2 separate regions of the Homo sapiens genome follow, and region 1 is linked to region 2. The links come from fine-mapping of genetic effects on gene expression. Tissue or cell type: fibroblasts. Region 2 holds a variant in brackets; the other region holds the start of a gene. All regions are shown on one strand. Distances are between the middles of the regions.

What was found.
Region 1: it holds the start of MELTF-AS1, and the variant in region 2 is fine-mapped to the expression of MELTF-AS1 in fibroblasts (GTEx, PIP above 0.99).

What each region holds. Positions count from the first base shown.
Region 1 is chr3:196,998,083-197,006,763 of GRCh38, forward strand. MELTF-AS1 (MELTF antisense RNA 1) reads left to right here and starts at 4,824. Exons shown (of 4, transcript NR_038285.1): 1 at 4,824-4,891; 2 at 5,520-5,888; 3 at 6,015-6,277; 4 at 6,412-6,662. MELTF (melanotransferrin) reads right to left here. Exons shown (of 16, transcript NM_005929.6): 14 at 8,467-8,654; 15 at 5,819-6,017; 16 at 3,658-5,369. The coding sequence ends at 5,290. It also overlaps the pseudogene RPSAP30. RefSeq lists silencers at 4,323-4,402, 4,553-5,342, 5,383-5,782.
Region 2 is chr3:197,016,625-197,025,305 of GRCh38, forward strand. It overlaps MELTF (melanotransferrin), which reads right to left. Exons shown (of 16, transcript NM_005929.6): 4 at 7,679-7,861; 5 at 6,333-6,489; 6 at 4,780-4,847; 7 at 479-666. Among named protein-coding and RNA genes, the nearest start is that of MELTF, 8.9 kb to the right of the region's middle. RefSeq lists an enhancer at 6,110-6,159. The variant C/T (reference allele first, on the strand shown) is at 3,805.

The DNA of each region.
Region 1 (8,681 bases), 19 kb before region 2:
ACATTTTTAGAGATGGGAGTCTCACTATGTTGCCCAGGCTGGCCTCAACTCCTGGGCTCAAGCAATCCTCCTGCCTCAACCTCCAAGTAGCTGGGACTACAGGCATACACCATTGCACCCAGCTTCGCAGTCTATGTTTTAATAAACCCTCAGGTGATCCTCACATACGCTCAAGGCGAGAAGCTTTGACGTATATGACTCTCCGCTGTGAAACCCAGCTTCTGGCTTGTTAGCACCAACGCAGAGGCAGCTGAGAAAGGCAGAAACAAAAAGAGCCCACCCGGCCCCTCTCACTTCAGCACAGGCAACAACCCCGTGAAGACTCAGATGTGTTTTAGTCTAAGAATTACTGTTAGAGCTAGAAATCGTCGAGGCCCCATACCCGCTTCTCAGTTTATAGATTTGGGAACTGAGATGGGGAGAGGAGAAAGTATTGGCCCAGGGTGAATACCAAAGTGGAATGAGAATTCAAGTTTCCTGAATCTTAGGTGAGTGAGCTGGTTTTTATTCCACAAAATTGGAATATCTTTTTTTTTGAGGCAGGGTCTGGTCTGGAGTGCAGTGGCACCATCACGGCTCACCGGAACCTCCACCTCCCAGGCACAAGTGATCCTCCCACCTCAGCCTCCCAAGTAGCTGGAGGTACAGGTGTGGGCCACCACACTGGGCTAATTTTTTTAAAAATTGTTTGTAGAGATGGGGTCTCACTATGTTGCCCAGACTGGTCTTAAATTCCTGGGCTCAAGCGATTCTTCCACCTCAGCCTCCCAAAGGGCTGGGTTGACAGCGGTGAGCCACCACACCCAGCCTAATTAATATATCTTTTTAAAAAATTGTAGCATTTATACCTATTGTAAATGTTGTGTGAATCTTTTTCAAGAATGTTGTCCTGAGGAACACATCCTCATTGTAAACAGTCAAGAACACCTGGGGAGGAGTCTGAAGCTGGGGGTGACGGCTTGTGCCGTGTGGGCCACAAGGCCCTGTCTATCCTGTCACTGTCCCTCCTGCACAGCAGTGTTCTTCTACCACACCACCTCGGTGGCCTCTCCAAATGAGACCAAGGGGGGCAGGGCTAGTAGGCCGTGTACTTACTTCTTTGTACCTTCCAGAGCGCTGAGCACAGGGCTGTGCACACAGCAGGCTGGCCGACCCCAAGCACTTGTGGGGCCTAGGACAAGAGTACCAACAGAGGCCCGCCTACCATGTGGCTCCACATTAAATGTTACAAATCAAGCTAACAAGCTATTAAAGAGAATGTGTCCTGTCCTCCTACTTTGACAAACAAACCTTTATAAAGACTCAGCAGCCTAGAATAGGAGCTGCGGACAGAACAGGCTTCCCCGCCATAGCCCACCCGCTCTCTTCCCATCCAGGCTGCAACCCACGCTTCGAGGGCCTTGCGCATTGCAGAGGACACGGCAGCCTGCTCATCACGCTCAACTACACCTCCTGCGAGAGCTTTGGCCACCTTGGGAGGCAGGATCTAGGTAAGGGGCCCTCCAGACCCTGGAAGCTGGCTCAGGGCTGTTTGAGGTATAAAGTCCAGGATCCCAGGTATCTGGAACATGGTGTGAAAAATGGGCTCTGGGGCCAGGTGCGGTGGCTCATGCCTGTAATCCCTTTGGGAGGCCTTTGGGAGGCCGAGGTGGGCGGATCACGAGGTCAGGAGTTCGAGACCATCCTGGCCAACATGGTGAAACCCCATCTCTATGAAAAATACAAAGAGTAGCCATGTGTGGTGGTGGGCGCTTGTATTTCCAGCTACTTGAGAGGCTGAGGCAGGAGAATCACTTGAACCCGGAAGGCGGAGGTTGCAGTGAGCTAAGATTGTGCCACTGAACTCCAGCTTGGGCAACAGAGCAAGACTCCGTTTCAAAAAAAGAAAAGATGACCCCTGAGTGAACGCATCCCTTTTCCCTGTGATTGCTCCCTCTGTGGGTGGGGTGTGGGGTGTGGTCTGGGGGAGGCCTCTGAAGGCTTGCTTCTCAAAGTGTGGTCCCTGGACCACCAGCACAGGCACCACCTGGGAGCTGGTCTGAACTGCAGACTCTCAGTCTCATGCTGGCCCTTCTGAACCAGAGTCTACATTTTAACAAGATCCCCAGGCAGTTAATGTGCACATCAAGGTCTGAAAAGCACTGCTTGAAAGCACAAAACCGAGGACTAGAATCCCTCTTGCCTAGGTCTAGGGGTGGTACTGACAAGTAGGTATCAGTAAGTATTTGCTCAACAAATGGCCAATAGCCCTACAACAGGCCTGGTAGCCATGGGGGTGCTGGGGCATGGCTGCCTGACTCACAAGGATTTCATTTCCTTTTTCTGGGGCCTCGGTGGCCATGTGTCCGCTATACACCCTGCTTCTGGCCTGTGCTGACTGGTCCAGTGGTAGATGCCTGACGCACACTGGGCCAATCAGATGATCTCTCCCAGGAATTCCAAATTGAAGACAAGAAAACAGGCTCTGGAGTAATAGCAGTAGTGACAGTGAACATCCTTCCTGCACCCACCGTGTGCCAAGCACTGTGCTGAGTGTTTTGTGTCTTAGACTCTATGCCATGTGCCAAGCACTGTGCTGAGTGTTTTGTGTCTTAGACTCTATGCCGTGTGCCAAGCACTGTGCTGAGTGTTTTGTGTCTTAGACTCTATGCCGTGTGCCAAGCACTGTGCTGAGTGTTTTGTGTCTTAGACTCTATGCCGTGTGCCAAGCACTGTGCTGAGTGTTTTGTGTCTTAGACTCTATGCCGTGTGCCAAGCACTGTGCAGTGTTTTGTGTCTTAGTCTCTATGCCGTGTGCCAAGCACTGTGCTGAGTGTTTTGCATCTTAGACTGGATCTTCACAACCACCTCACCAAGCTGGTGATCGTACTGTGTGTTTTTCAGATGAGGGGCTAGGGTGCCCAAAGGTTAACTTTCCTTTCCAGAAGTTCAGGGTAGGGAAGTGGTAGCATGAGGCGAGCTGGAGTGACTGTGCAGCTGAGACTCGTCCATGTGATGCAGAGACAAAGTCGGTCAACTCTGGCCATCCAGGTCCCCAGGAATTGACTGGCTTTGTGATAACTGAGCCGACTTCATGGAAAATGGCCTGTGTGCAGTGGTGGGCAAGACCTGGCTCTGGGAGATGGCCACAGCGGCGAGGGGTGGTGGTGTGGGGGCCAAGTGAAGCCATGAGAGAGGGAAGCAGAGAAAACCTCCCCTTCCAGAGGGAGAGCAGAGCACTGATGAAGACCAGCCGGGCCCACCCCCACCTCAGTAGATACCACAGAGCACCCACTGTAGGGTCTCTGGGAGATCCGCTCCCCACGCCCCCCTCCAGTGAGTTAGCAGCGAGCTTGCCAGAGAAAAGATGTGGGCCGCTTATTTTGGAGGTGTGGGGCAGGGGGCAGCAGAGAAGTTTGCACCCTTCTCTGCACCCATCCACAGAAGGGCAGACACCCCAGAGCCTGATGGGGTGGAGGCAGCTGGAATGTGCCAGGGCAGCGGAGGCCCTGCAAGAGCCAGAGAACCAGTCCAGGTCGAAGAAGGGCGCGGGGGGCCTCACTGACTAGAGGATGAGAGTGGTCCCTGACTGGCTCTTGGAGAATGGAATCTGCCCTTCTCGGTGGAGCAGGTAGGCCTTTGAGTGCCTAACAAAACGAAAGAAATCGGCAGCAGAAGTTTCTATCAGGGTCCAAGCCTCTGCATGTGCTGGCTTGTTTGGCTTTATTTTAGAAACCAACCAACATGTTTCATTAGCACTGACACAGCAGGGGTCCCCTGCTGCCACCTGACAATCCAGCGTCACTTACACTGCACCCACGCAGGCCACACCTTCAATGGCCACGGCACGCTAGCCCAGAGTTAGCCACACAGAAACACACTTCTCACCGCACAAAACTCCCTTTTGAAAAAACCAAGCAATCGTCAGGTCGGAGGAGAATCACTAGCCCCCCACAGCGAGAGGGGACAAAGCTTGGTGGCCGAGGCCCAGGTCCTTGTGGCCCCTCCCGGTGGGGTGAAGGTGCCCGGGACTCCTCGGGGTTGCATGGCTACAGCCGGGGCGCTGCCAGGGCCTCCTCTGCGGCTGAGAGATGGAAGGGATCCTTCCCGACGCCCGCAGGTGGGGGCGAGCCACCGGGAACCGGGCCTGTCACCAGCATCCCCGAGCCCCCGCAGACCGGAATGCAAATGGCTCCGCGCCCACGCGGCTCCCGGTCTGCTGACGAGGGCTGCCTGCTCCCATTTCTTCTCTTCCTCTTCATTTTTTTTAAGGGCTGCCAGTTCTGGAAACTTTTTCTGGCTTCTCAGACAACTGTGGCAAGATGGAGTAGAGAGAGGCCCCGGCCGGGCGCTTTCTGCTGCCTCGCGGAGGGGCGGGCACGGGGAGTGAGGGGTCCCCAGGCCCAGCGGGTGCGGGGCCGGGTGAGGAGACGGAGCTCACCCCCGTTCGGAACCCAGAAGCATGGCGGGTCCCCACGCGCAGCCCTTCAGGGGCCTCGGGAGCCCGCGGCCTGGGTCACCTCCGGCTCCCTTCAGGCGGGGGGCGGCTGCTGCCGCCAGGCTCGGGCGTGGGTGCGGGCGGTGGGCATCCCACGGGGGTAGGGGAGGCGAGAGCCTGAGGAGACTCGGGAGGGGGCCCGTGGACGCGGCTGGCCCGGGATGGAGCTGGCGCGGCCACAGTGGGGGACGAGGCAGGGCACGCGGCGTTCCCCGGGCTCGGCCTCCCTCCCAGCGCACGGGCGGTCGGAGGAACTGGAGCCCCCACCCCGGACACGGTCCCGCGGGCGAAGGCTTCTCCCCGTCGCCCCGGTCCGGCCTCCCTCCCGCCGCCGCCAGCAGAGGCCGCTGTCCCACGCGCCGGGTCCCGTTGGCGCCGGGGCCTCCTGGGACGGCCTGGCCGCGGCCTGCGGGTGTAGGCGCCTCGGCGGCCACCGCGTCCCCAGGGGGCCTCGCGGACGGGGGCGCGGGGCTGCGGGGAGGAGGCGGGCGGGCCCCTCGGGCGACACCGCGGGGCGGGCGGCGGGAAGCCCGGACTCAGCGGTTTCCTGGGCAACCGGCCTCCTCCGGCGCGGCCCGCGCGGCTCCAGGTGGCGGGAGGCGGCGGTTGGCGGGAAGGGCCGCGCGGGCCCGGGGGCGGCGCCTCAGGTAGCAGCGCCAGGTGGCGCCCGTGGGCGGCGGGGCTCCCGGGGAGGCGCCTGCTCCCGCCCACGCCGGGCCCGGCCTTCGCGAGCTTCCTTCTGGATTCCAGCGCGAAGCCGCCGCGGAAACTCCCCGGGCGGGCATCGGAGCTCTGGGGCGGGGCGGCCGGGCTCAGAGGGCGGGCGGGAGCAGGCGGGCGGCGAGGGCGGGCAGCAGCAGCGGGAGCAGGGGCGCCCCGGGCGCCGGGGCCGCTGGGGACGAACGCGGCGGGTCAGGCCCCGAAGCCCGGGCCGCGGTGGCCGCCTCAGGCGCCCGCTCTGGGGTGGGGGTGGGGGCATCTTTCGGGACCGAACTCGCCGCAGCCTCCCTCTTTGTGCTCCTTTCCCCTGCTGCCCTTCCAGATGCGCTCTTTCCAGAAAGGCAGCACACGCATGTCTCTGCCGTGGCCCCAGATCCTCCCCGCGCCGCCGTTTTGAGCGTTCACACTCATTACCCAGGTCCGTCTGGGAGACCCGCCGGGCTCCCGCCCTCCCGGCCCGCAGCCTCCTGGCCAAAATCCTCCCGGGACACCCCACCTGGACTGCTGCGAACGGGCCTCCACCCGCCTCCCCGGACCCGCAGCGCCCCCCGCTCCCTCAGGGTTCTGGGGTGAAGGGGTCTGAATAGCACCAGGGGAGGCGGCAGGGCGGGCCTGTCCTACCTGCGCCCGAGCACTGCTGAGACGACATCCCTTCCAGCGCCGCCACGTAGTCCAGCCCCAGCCAGCCGCGGTAGGTGGTTTTCTCTCCGACAGGCACCGCCCGGACGGTGGCATCCTTGAAAAGCAGGTCTTGGCCATGATAGTTGGAGGAGTCGAACATTTTGAACCCGTTCTTATTGTGGTCGTCTCCAAACAGGTCCTGGAAGCACCGCAGGCAGACGACCTGCTCCTCACTGGGCTCAGGCAGGGTCACCCGCCCAGTGCCGCTAGCTGCAAATTGCTTTACATACAGTGACCCAAAGAGCAAGTCATTTCAGGGCCCCACCACTCTGATTGGAAGTCATAAGCTTGACAACTGATTGGCCTCTGTCACCCAAGCGGGTGTGGGGACACTAGGCCCGCAGGTGCCACTGGAAGAGGCGTTCAGAAGCACTGCGGTGCTCCAGCTCCTGGATGCAGGTCTGAGGCCTGAGATGTCCAGGAAGAAAGACCCAGAAATGAGGGATGGTGTGGGTGGGATTCCTGAGCGTTCTGCTAGGCCTGCTGAGCACTTCTTGGCCTTTTCCATAAGGCTTTCTCACTCTGTCTTACAGATATCTCCCCACAAACCTAAACAATTTCGAGAGGGACTTGTGTTCTGCAACCAGTCACAGAATATCAGGTGAGCTGGGCGTGTCTTCACTGACCCACCCGCCCAGGGATGCTGCACTCCTCTCCACCCTGCTCAGAATCACTAGAATGACCGTTCTGTGGCTACAGCCCTAAAAGAGCTACTAAAAAGACCAGAAGTAGTATGAGAACTTATGAATACGAATATAAATAAAGGACATCTGGAGAACATGCATGAATGTCTATGTAAAGTGTTAAGTACTGATCAAGGAGGAACGAAGGAGTCAGGTGGCTCTCAGTCTTTTTGGAGGGACTCGCAGATCCTCCTGAAGATCTGATGAAAGCTGTCAGCCTTCTCCCCAGAAAAATGCACATCCACCCAGGATTCTTCTCCCACATTACTTCAGAGGACTTAGCAACCCCCTAGGGAAGCCCAGGGACCCAGAGTAAAGCACTCCTGGGATAGAGGGGTTCTGTGGGGAAGATGACAGGAAGGAACATGCGTCAGTTCACAATGTCAAAGTTTAGGAACAGGCCTGGCGAGCCAGCCAGCTCTGCAGTTCTGTGGTGCTGGTGGGTGTGGAGAAGGCAATTTCAGCATAAGTCGGGGGAGGGGGAGTGGTTAGAAACCAGTGGCTCCATTGTGAGACAACCTGGGTTTAAATTCTAGGTATATTTTGAAAGCACAACCAATGGGATCTGCTGATAGATTGGCTGTAGAGCACGAGAGGAAGACCGGAGTCAAAAATGACTCCCGAGGAAATGGAAAAGCTAAAGTTGCTCTTAATTGAAGTGGGGAAGACTGAAGGAGGGACGGGGGTCCAACTTTGGACTTGATCCATTTGAGATGACTGTTAGAAACACAAGTCAAAATGTCAAGTATGTAGTTAAATATGCAAGTTTGGGACTGATGTCTGAAGATGTAAATTTAGAAGCCATCTGTATATAGATGGTATTTGATGACATGGGATTGGATGAGATCAAGGGTAAGCTGTAGACAGGGAAGAGGGCTGAGAACTGAATCCTAGGGCTAACAGGTCAGGGAGATGGGGAGGAAATCAGCAGAGAAGACTGAGGAGTGGCCAGAGAGTGAGAGGACAGCCAGGCAGGGCTGAGGACCTGGGCATCTGCAGGGGAAGGTGTTTCCAGGAGGAGGGAGAGCTGTGGCCAGTGCCACTGAGAGGTCAAGTAAAATGAAGACTGAGAAATGGCCACTGGGTTTAGCAACATGGGTCACTGTGACCTTGACAAGAACAGCTTCAGGGCCCTGGTGGGAGCCTGTCTGGGGTAGTCTCCATCCTTAAGAGGGGCCAGAGGAGAGGACTTGCTAACTCAGTCTCCATCCTTAAGAGAGGCCAGAGGAGAGGACTTGTTAACTCCAGAGCAGACCACTCTTTGGAGGAGTTTTGCTTCGAAAGGGAGCAGGATTGGCCGGGCACAGTGGCTCATGCCTGTAATCCCAGCACTTTGGGAGGCCGAGGTGGGCGGATCACGAGGTCAGGAGATCGAGACCATCCTGGCTAACACGGTGAAACCCCTTCTCTACTAAAAAATAGAAAAAATTAGCCAGGCATGGTGGCGGGTGCCTGTAGTCCCAGCTACTCAGGAGGCTGAGGTGGGAGAATGGCGTGAACCCGGGAGGCGGAGCTTGCAGTGAGCCGAGATAGTGCCACTGCACTCCAGCCTGGGGCGACAGAGTAAGACTCCGTCTCAAAAAAAAAAGAAAAAAAGGGAGCAGGATTACAGCTGCAAGAGGATGGATGTGAGACCAAGAGGTTAGTTTGTTCTTTAAGGATGGCAGAAGTCACAGCATGTTTCATGTTGGTGAAAATGGTCCGACTGAGAAGGGAAAATCAACGATGCAGGAGGCAGAGGGGACAGTTTCTGGAGGGATGTCCTTGCGTAAGTGAAAATCACAGAATTTCCCCCGGGCTTCCTCAATTTCTCTAGAGGTCTGCTCCAGGTAGACTGAGGCCTCCCAGGGGCTCAGCTTACCTCTGCTGCACACCCCTCAATGAGGTAGCCCCACCCTGGCTCACCTGGGCCTTGTCCAGCAGTCCATACACGGTGAAGATGTTGGTGTCGGGCCGGACCATCACGGCGTGGGGTGGTATCTGTGCCAGGTTGCAGGCTGCAAACTGGGACACCTCGGCTCGGGCCCCGTTGGGGCACAGCAGTTCATAGTCCTCTGACCTGAGCTCAGCAGCCCAGGGCTCGGAATTGTGGCCTGAGGGGGGTAAAGCAGTGTGTGTGG
Region 2 (8,681 bases):
GGCATGGGACGGTCCTGAGGACACGCCGTGGGGCTGGTGGTAGCAGCCTGGATAGGGCAAAACTAACTGAGCCTGGGGCACCAGCAGTCAGAAGTCTATTGCTGTCACAAGCGGCGGTTTTAGCCAAACCTTATTCGCCACATGTAATTAATGGTGTGCTTTGAAAGGCGCTGGTTTTGTTACTTGGTTTATTTGCTCATATGTTTTGGTTTTAGCTCTCAGAGACACAAGTCTCAGGAGCTTCTTCTGAGGGTGCCTGAATCCCTGGGTCCCCCTCCTCTGGGCCCCCCTCTCCTGGCCAGCCCTCCTTCTGGCCAGCCAGCATAGTCGGTTCCTCACTCTGACCTGGCCCGATGCTGGGGTCCGTCCCAAGGACAGTCTCTGGGTCCTGCCCCTCCTGGTCCCACCCTGCTGAGCGACCACAAGGCCCGGCACCATCTAGGAAGCTGTGCAGGTGGTTGGGGGACCCTGAGCCCACCTGGCCTTCGTTGAGCAGCCGGAAGATGAGGCCCCCATCTGTGTCGGCCCGGACCACCACGGCGTGAGCAGGCACCCGGGCCAGATGGCACTGCCTCCACTCGGTGACATCGGCCCGGCTACCATCCCGGCACAGCAGCTCGAAGTCCTGTGACAGCAGGGCCTGGCCCCAGGAGGGAAGCGTCTTCCCTGGGAAGCAGGAAGCCTGGGCTGAGCCAGCTCCGAAAGGGGTTGGGGCGGGTGGCGGGGAAGGCCCAGGAGAGGGAATCTGAGGGGTGGCTGGGTGTCATGGACATGAGAACCCAGCATTCAGAAGGTGGCAGAGCTTGGTGGCCGCACCCAACTCCAGGTACCTACACAGACTCTATCTCGTTACTCTCATTTTCTAGCTCTCACCAATTTCTATTGCTAAAGTGAATTGGAGGTATCTGACAGTAATACAATACTTATAAATAACTATTCAAGATAAAAAAAGTAAGAAAATAAGAAAGGCTGGCCGGGCGTGGTGGCTCACGCCTGTAATCCCAGCACTTTGGGAGGCCGAGGTGGGCGGATCACGAGGTCAGGAGATCAAGACCATCCTGGCTAACACGGTGAAACCCCATCTCTACTAAAAATACAAAAAATTAGCTGGGCGTGGTGGCGGGCGCCTGTAATCCCAGCTACTGGGGAGGCTGAGGCAGGAGAATGGTGTGAACCTGGGAGGCGGAGCTTGCAGTGAGCCGAGATCACGCCACTGCACTCCAGCCTGGGCGACAGAGCGAAACTCTGTCTCAAAAAAAAAGAAAGGCTTTGGGTGAGACAGATGAATGTACCAAGAGTCTAGGATGAGCTTGCGGCTGCCATGAGGCACTGCGTTTGGCTCTGAGCAGGGGGCAGGGGGCAGGGCTCCCGGAGCAGGGGCCACGGTGGAAACAAACCCCGAAGGAATCTACCCACCCCAGGACTAGAGAGGACGGGGGATCTCCCATAACTCCAACTATTCATATTGCGATGGATTTCTTTCAAGTCCTTTTTTCTATTTTATTTCCTGTCTTTTGACCTCACCCCCCCTTTTTCTTTTTGAGACGGAGTCTGGCCCTTTCGCCCAGGCTGGAGTGCAGTGGCACGATCTCGGCTCACTGCAACCTCCACCTTCCGGGTTCACGCCATTCTCCTGCCTCAGCCTCCCGAGTAGCTGGGACCACAGGTGCCCGCCACCACGCCCGGCTAATTTTTTGTATTTTTTTTTATTAGAGATGGGGTTTTACTGTGTTAGCCAGGATGGTCTTGATCTCCTGACCTCGTGATCCACCCACCTCGGCCTCCCAAAGTGCTGGGATTACAGGCGTGAGCCTCCACACCTGGCCTTTTTTCTCTTTTTGAGATGGAGTCTTACTCTGTCGCTCAGGCTGGAGTGCAGTGGCATGATCTTGGCTCACTGCAACCTCCGCCTCCCAGGTTCAAGTTATTCTTCTGCCTCAGCCTCCCGAGTAGCTCAGATTACAGGTGTGCACCAAGATGCCTGGCTAATTTTTGTATTTTTCCTAGAGATGGGGTTTCACCATGTTGGCCAGGCCGGTCTTGAACCCCTGACCTCATGATCTGCCAGCCTCGGCCTCCCAAAGTGCTGGGATTACAGGCGTGAGGCACCGTGCCCAGCCTCCTTTTGACCGCTTTTAACCTGGTTAAGGACATAGTTGACAGGCAATTTTGCATCCTATTTGGTAGAGTATTTTTCCACAGTATTGGAAACTTTCCATAAGTTCATTTGTTTCTCGATAGAAAAGAAAATTTGCAAGAGTAACTATTAACACCAAACAGGGATATTGAGAAGACGAATATTAAGGACTATAATTAAACCACAGATGGTCCCACATAACAATATTTTTATGACCTTAAGACAAGGAGGAAAAAAACCTCTACAAGGAAATAGGAAGAAAAAAGATAATTTGTATGGTCATGAAAGCTTTCACTGCAAAGCTATTTTAAAACAAAACCAAACACCCGCACCAGAGTGATCGTTTAGGAAAACTCCCTAAAGGTCATTGTTAATGGCCACATGGTAGTTTACAGCACTGTTAATGATTCAGTGTAGTCCTACCCCCGCTTCCCAACTTTCCTGTTTTTCGGCGGCTGCAAAACCTTTGGTTAGAGCTCTGGGGCATCATTTGCCTTCCCACAGACAAAGGCATCATTTAGGTGCTTCCATCAGCCACTCCCGCTTCTCCTCAGCCAAGAACAATGAAAGTCCTGTCACTTCCCTGCTTTAGACATTTATGCCACTTCTACCCCTTGGCTCTTACCAATCTTTCTGTATAAAGTCACTTAAAAAATGACTCCCTTAGATTGCCTCAGATTACCATCAACACTTTGAAAAAGCTGCCAGGTGCACGCCTGTCATCCCAGCTACTCAGGAGGCTGAGATGCGAGGATCAGTTGAGGCTGGGGGTTTGAGACCAGCCTGGGCAACATGGTGAGACCCCCATCTCAAAAAAAACCCCAAGTTTGAAAGAGCTGATTCTTAACCCAACATATCCCTACTCTTTGCCCGTTTTCCAAATTCTCCTTTGTCAGACTCGTCCTGGGGCCTGTGAACGGGAGCCCATTTCCAGGCTTGCCCAGCACTAGAGCGCATCGTCCTACGTGCTTCCTCGTGTGCAGGGCACTCGCCTTCTTCCTCCTCAGATCTGGTCCATGTTTGCCTTCGTGATGGACTTTCTGATTTAAAAGGCAATGGTTAATAACAGCAAAGAATGACAATGATTTAAAAAAAAAACCCAATCATCAGACGTCCTGGGAGACGCAAAACTGCAGACAGAACGGTGTGTTTGCTGCTTGCTGGCAGGTGCGGGGAGATAACTAGCAGGGGCCTGAGGAACTCCTGGGCTGAAGGGTCTGCCCCATCAAGATCTCGATTGTGGTGGTGGTTATACAACTGCATGTATTTGGCAAAACTCATAGAACTATCCTTCAAAAAGAACAAATTTTGCTGCATGTAAATTATATCTCAATTTAAAAAAAGAAACAATCTTCAGGCAAATCTAAATTGAGGGACATTCTATAAAATAACCGGCCTGATGCTTCAAAATGCCAATGTCATAAAAACAAAGACTGAGAAACTGTTCCAAGATAAAGGAAAGTAAAGAGATCTAACAACTAAACCCCATGCGTGGTAAGAGTTTAGGTCCTGGTCTGCAAGAAATGGGCATGAAGGACAGAATTGGGACGGTGAGTGAATCTGCAATATCGGCTATAGACTGGATAACAGGATTGTATCAAAGTTGCGTGTCCTGATTTGGATTACTGTGGCTAGGTACACACCTCCTTGTCTTAGGAGATACATAC[C/T]AAAGTATTCAAGGGGTATGACATAGGCAAATGTACTCTCAAATGGGTCAGAACACACACGCACACACACACACACACACAATAAAATGTGGGAAAATGCTAAACAGTTAGAATTTGGGTGAAGAATAGAAGGGAGCTCTTTGAGTTATTCTTGTAAGTTTTCCAAAGCTCAGTTCTTTCAAAATTAAAAAACTTAAATGACATGATGGCTCAATATATAACACCAGTCTTTGTGGGTTTTTTTTTTGTTGTTGTTTTTTAGACAGAGTCTCGCTCTGTCACCAGGCTGGAGTGCAGTGGTGTGATCTCGGCTCACTGCAATCTCTGCCTCCTGGGTTCAAGCAATTCCCCTGCCTCAGCCTCCCAAGTAGCTGGGATTTGAGGCACCCACCACCACGCTCGGCTAGTTTTTTGTATTTTAGCAGAGATAGGATTTCACCATGTTGGCCAGGATGGTCTCTTCTCCTGACCTCGTGATCCGCCCACCTCGGCCTCCCAAAGTGCTGGGATTACAGGCATGAGCCACCGTGCCCAGCCTCAACACCAAACTATATCTTAAACCTTCCCAGGGATGAGGGACAAATTCTCCAGGCAAGAGGAGAAAAATGCCAGGAAGGGCTGGTAGGTGAGATCCAGTGCAGGGGTTTGCAAATTGCTTAAAAAATCAGACCCTCATCTTCAGGTGGAACCAGAACCCAATGCCATATTCAAATCAAAGCAGAGCAGAGCTGCTCGCTGGCCCCCTTCTCCTGCCCTGTGGGCAGTGGGCACTCCACTGGTGACACCTGCCTCTGCTCTTTTGCAGCTGGGAGTGCTGAGGCTCGGAGACTGTGGGACTTGTCCAAGGTCACCCAGAGACTCAGAGCAGCACTGCACTAGGGCGTTTGATCCCAACTCTGCCATCTAGGGTCCCTGCCCCAAGCCGGCCTGGCCTGACTCCCTGCTCCTCTGGGCCCGTGCCCCTCCCCCACTCACCATCCGTGTTCTCCAGTACCGTGCTGTGCTTCACAAAAGCCACGTCCCCTGCCCCTTCCGCCAGGCACCTGCGGAGGAGAAGCTGTGGGTCTGGATGGGCTGAGCCCCTGCCCCTGCCCATCTTCCACCTCTGGAGGCCTGGCTTGGGCTGTAGGGGTGGCCATGATGGGCATGGGCTTTCCAGTTGTGTGGTCTGGGTTCCAGCTCCCTGGCTGGTCGGCTGTGTGCCTTTGCCGAGTTGTGGCCCCTTCCTAGCCCCTATCATCTGTAAAGCGGGGGTGGGAAAGTAGCTCCCACAGGGCTGCTCTGAGGATGAGAGGCTCCTTATAATCCAGTATGGACCCTCTCCATCTTAGCTCAGGCCTGTAGGGAGCAGGCACTCCCAGGGCAGCTGCTATTATAATATCAGCAGCCTTGACTCTCAGGGCGTCGGTTTTCTGTGTGTTTGTTTTCGTTGTTTTGTTTTTAGAGATAGGGTCTCACTGTGTCGCCCAGGCTGGAGTGCAGTGGCGCAATCATAGCTCATGGCAGCTTTGACCTCTTGGGCTCAAGTGATCATCCTGCCTCTGCCTCCAAAGTAGCTGGGGTGACAGGTGTGTGCCACCATGCTGGGCTAATTTTCAGGGTGTTTTGAAGAGCATTCTACCCTGAGGCAGGGGATTGGACTAGAAGGCCTTTTCATGCCATGCCGCAGAATCCTCAGTGGAAGGGACCATTGACTTTTACACGATCTGCTGATGTCACTGCCCAGTGTTGGAGGCAGGTCAGACCTCCTGGGCAAAGGGTCTGCTTGGGTCCCCACGGGCAGAAAATGCACAGGGATTAGAGCAGATCGGGGCGGGCGACATCAGGAGAGGGCTCTGAGGCTCCAAGAGAGCCAGAGAGAATGTGTGCATGGCCAAGGACACGGGGAGTGGAGGGGCAAGGCTGTCCCGCTCAGGGGTGCTGAGGACTGTTTCTTCTCTCTAAGCCGAAAACCGCATCCAGTCAGATAACATCTGGAGTGTGGGGCACCAGCAGGCTTCCCTGCTCCAGGTGGAAACGTGAGGTAGCTAGAGGGGCCCGAGAAGCTTCCTTTCCAATCCTGCTGAGCACATTTCCTCCTCTGCAGGCAGATGGAATTGGACCACGAGCTGTTAGAGTCTCCTGCATCCACGGAAGGGTTACCCAAGGTGCCAGCCGCAACCAGCAGCAGAGACGGGCCGGCCCCAGGTGTCCAGACACACTCCCCTGACCCCGCTCCCTGCTGGTCTGAGAATGGGGACATGGGAGTGGCCAAAAGGCTGTTTTTTCCATTTTCTTCTCTTGGAGCCCTCACCTCACTAAATATACCAAACACGTTGATTTCATGAGCAAATCCGGTTTGGCATATTCCAGCTGGATGTTTTTAAACTAACCAGGGCACAGAACTATATAAAGGGTGCTTTGATGAGACGCAGCCAACATGCCACTTCCCCCTCCACGGCCCTCTCTGGGCAAAGGTGTTTTTCCCCAGCATTTGTGGCCTCAGCTCCTCCCTGCCCTCGGCCCCTCCCTGCCCCCACTCCGCTCACCGGAAGGCCCCGCTGTAGTCGTAGTATCTCTCCAGGGGGCTCTTGTCACACACCCCTTCCCCAGAGCTGTCACCCCTGCAGAGGCGACAGAGGGACTCAGAGTAACTGGTCTCTCCTGCCCCCGGGACGCAGCTGCCCCCAAAATAGTCGCTGACAGCTGTGGGAAGGAGGTAGAGAGGTCACTCAGCAGAACTTTCTTCAGAGCCAAGCCAAGCCCCCAGGGTCAGCAGGGGGCCCGGGCTCTCATCTGGACTCTGCTGAGAATGGTTCCACCTTCCAGCTTCAGTCTGAGCAAAGCTGGGGAGTGGACCCGATCAGTGACCCCCAAACCGGGTCCACCAAGGCAGCAGACAGCACTGGGAGCGACTGTCATTTAAAAATGGTTCGGGGGAACTAAACATTTCCTCCTAAATGACCACGTGGGATAACTCAGTATCAGCCAGATGCTCTTCTCACTGTGGGTTTCATTTCCAGCTCAGCCAACTGTGACTGATGACAGAGGGGAAATAAAGAATTATTGAAGATCACTGATGGGTAGACAACCCTTCTCACGGCACAGGGAGGGAGGCACACGCCCGGCGGCCAGCCTCACGGGGGACGAGGTCAGGGTCTGCCGCCCTGCATGGTTCTTCCGGCCCTGCCAGCACCAAAACCCACAAGTATTTATCCTGTGCCGCGCGAGGAGGCCCTGCTGCTGGCACCTGAGCCAGTCGGGCCACGCTCATCGCCAGCCAGACTGAGCTTTTCCAGAGTAAGCCCTCTTCCTGGTTTTTTTTTTGTGACCTCCCAGAGGAGTAGATATTTAATAAATATGCCAAGTGCCTGGTGAGCCACTCACACCTGGCCACCAGCTGAGAGGGTGAGGCTTCCAGGCTCTCGCGGGTTTACACGGCTGGTTGGGCTGATGAGCCACTTGGGAGCTTTCTGGGTGCAAGTCGGCACCTCGTTTGGGTCCTGAAAAAATAGCATTTCTGGTCCTGTAAAGCCGAGGACACATTTCTAGACACAGTGACCTGCGCCCGGTCTATACTGGTGGGAAGCACTCCTGGGAGATTCACTGCTTCCCACTCATGGGCTGGGCCTGTGCCTGGCTGTGCCATGTGGGACACCACGATGCGTGAGCAAGAATCGCGCCCCACAGGGTCCAAGCAAGCAGGAAGTCAAGCGGCGGCGCCGGCGGCAGAGTGGAGGCGGGGGAGGCACGGGGCGGGCGGGGGCTGCTGCGCCTTCCAGGAATGAAGAATGGTGGCGAGGCCGGAGGGAGGCTACCCAGTGAAGGGACGAGCATGGGCCAAGGAAAGGAGGGGGAGGCCTGGGGACCCTCCTGCCCAGCCCAAAGCCCTCACCTTTGAGTACATCGCAGCCCATCACCGAGAGGCGGCCGCTCTCCACCAGGTAGCCCACGGGCACGTTCCAGCCCACTGTGCGATTGATGCCCGTGTGGCAGGACTTCACGCCTTTCAGGGTGTCAATGGTCACATGGGAGCTCCTCCTGACCACAGCCACGGCGTAATAGGAGGTACCGACCTCTAGGAGGGGAGGGGAGTGGGTGAGGGCAGCAGGGAGAGGCCTCGAGAGAGGCTGCACCAGCACCCTGCCTGGGCGGGCTGTGGGAGAGGTGTGTGCACGGAGCACGGCTGTACACACGGATGTGTGCATAGCGTTCTCGTTACCAAGAGAGCAAGTGGGCTTCATCTGCATGTATTAAGAGGCCCTGCCCTCTAGCCTCTTGAGGTAGAGACGATCCTGAGATATTGATGTATTCATTGATTTCCCCCTCTTCCTTCCCCAGCAGCTGGTGCTTAGCTGGGTCCACATTTGCTCACATCAGGGGAGTTATTTAGCTGGACAGAAAGCAGAAGCCAGCAAGTCCTTGCTTTCCAAGAGCCTAGGCCCCTAGGAGAACTTGGAGGGTTTGGGGGAATGGTGTCAGGGTCATGGGAAGAAGGGTGTCTGGGAGGAGCAGGGGAGCCGAGGAGGGGCTTCCCCAGATGAGGAGCGGCGATTTCCTGGTGCTGAGGGGGTTGAAGGAGAGTGAGACAGAGGCAGAGACAGAGAGAACTAGCGATGTGGCCCCAAGTCGCTCACGACCCTGAATGCTGCAGGGTGTGTGTGGTGGGGCCAGGGCTCTGCAGCCTTGCAAAGCGTTCCCCTGTGCCAAGGTGGCTCCAAGGGGCTGCTCAGGCAAAACACAGACTCAGCTGTGGGAACTGATGCCCAGAGGGTCTCCCATCGCACGGGCGCACACACGCAGGCATGCACGCGTGCACAAACTGCCCGGTGGTGTGGGAGGCCATATCAGAATGAAGTTGAGTTCTAGAACATAAAGCCAGTGTTACTTCTTGCACA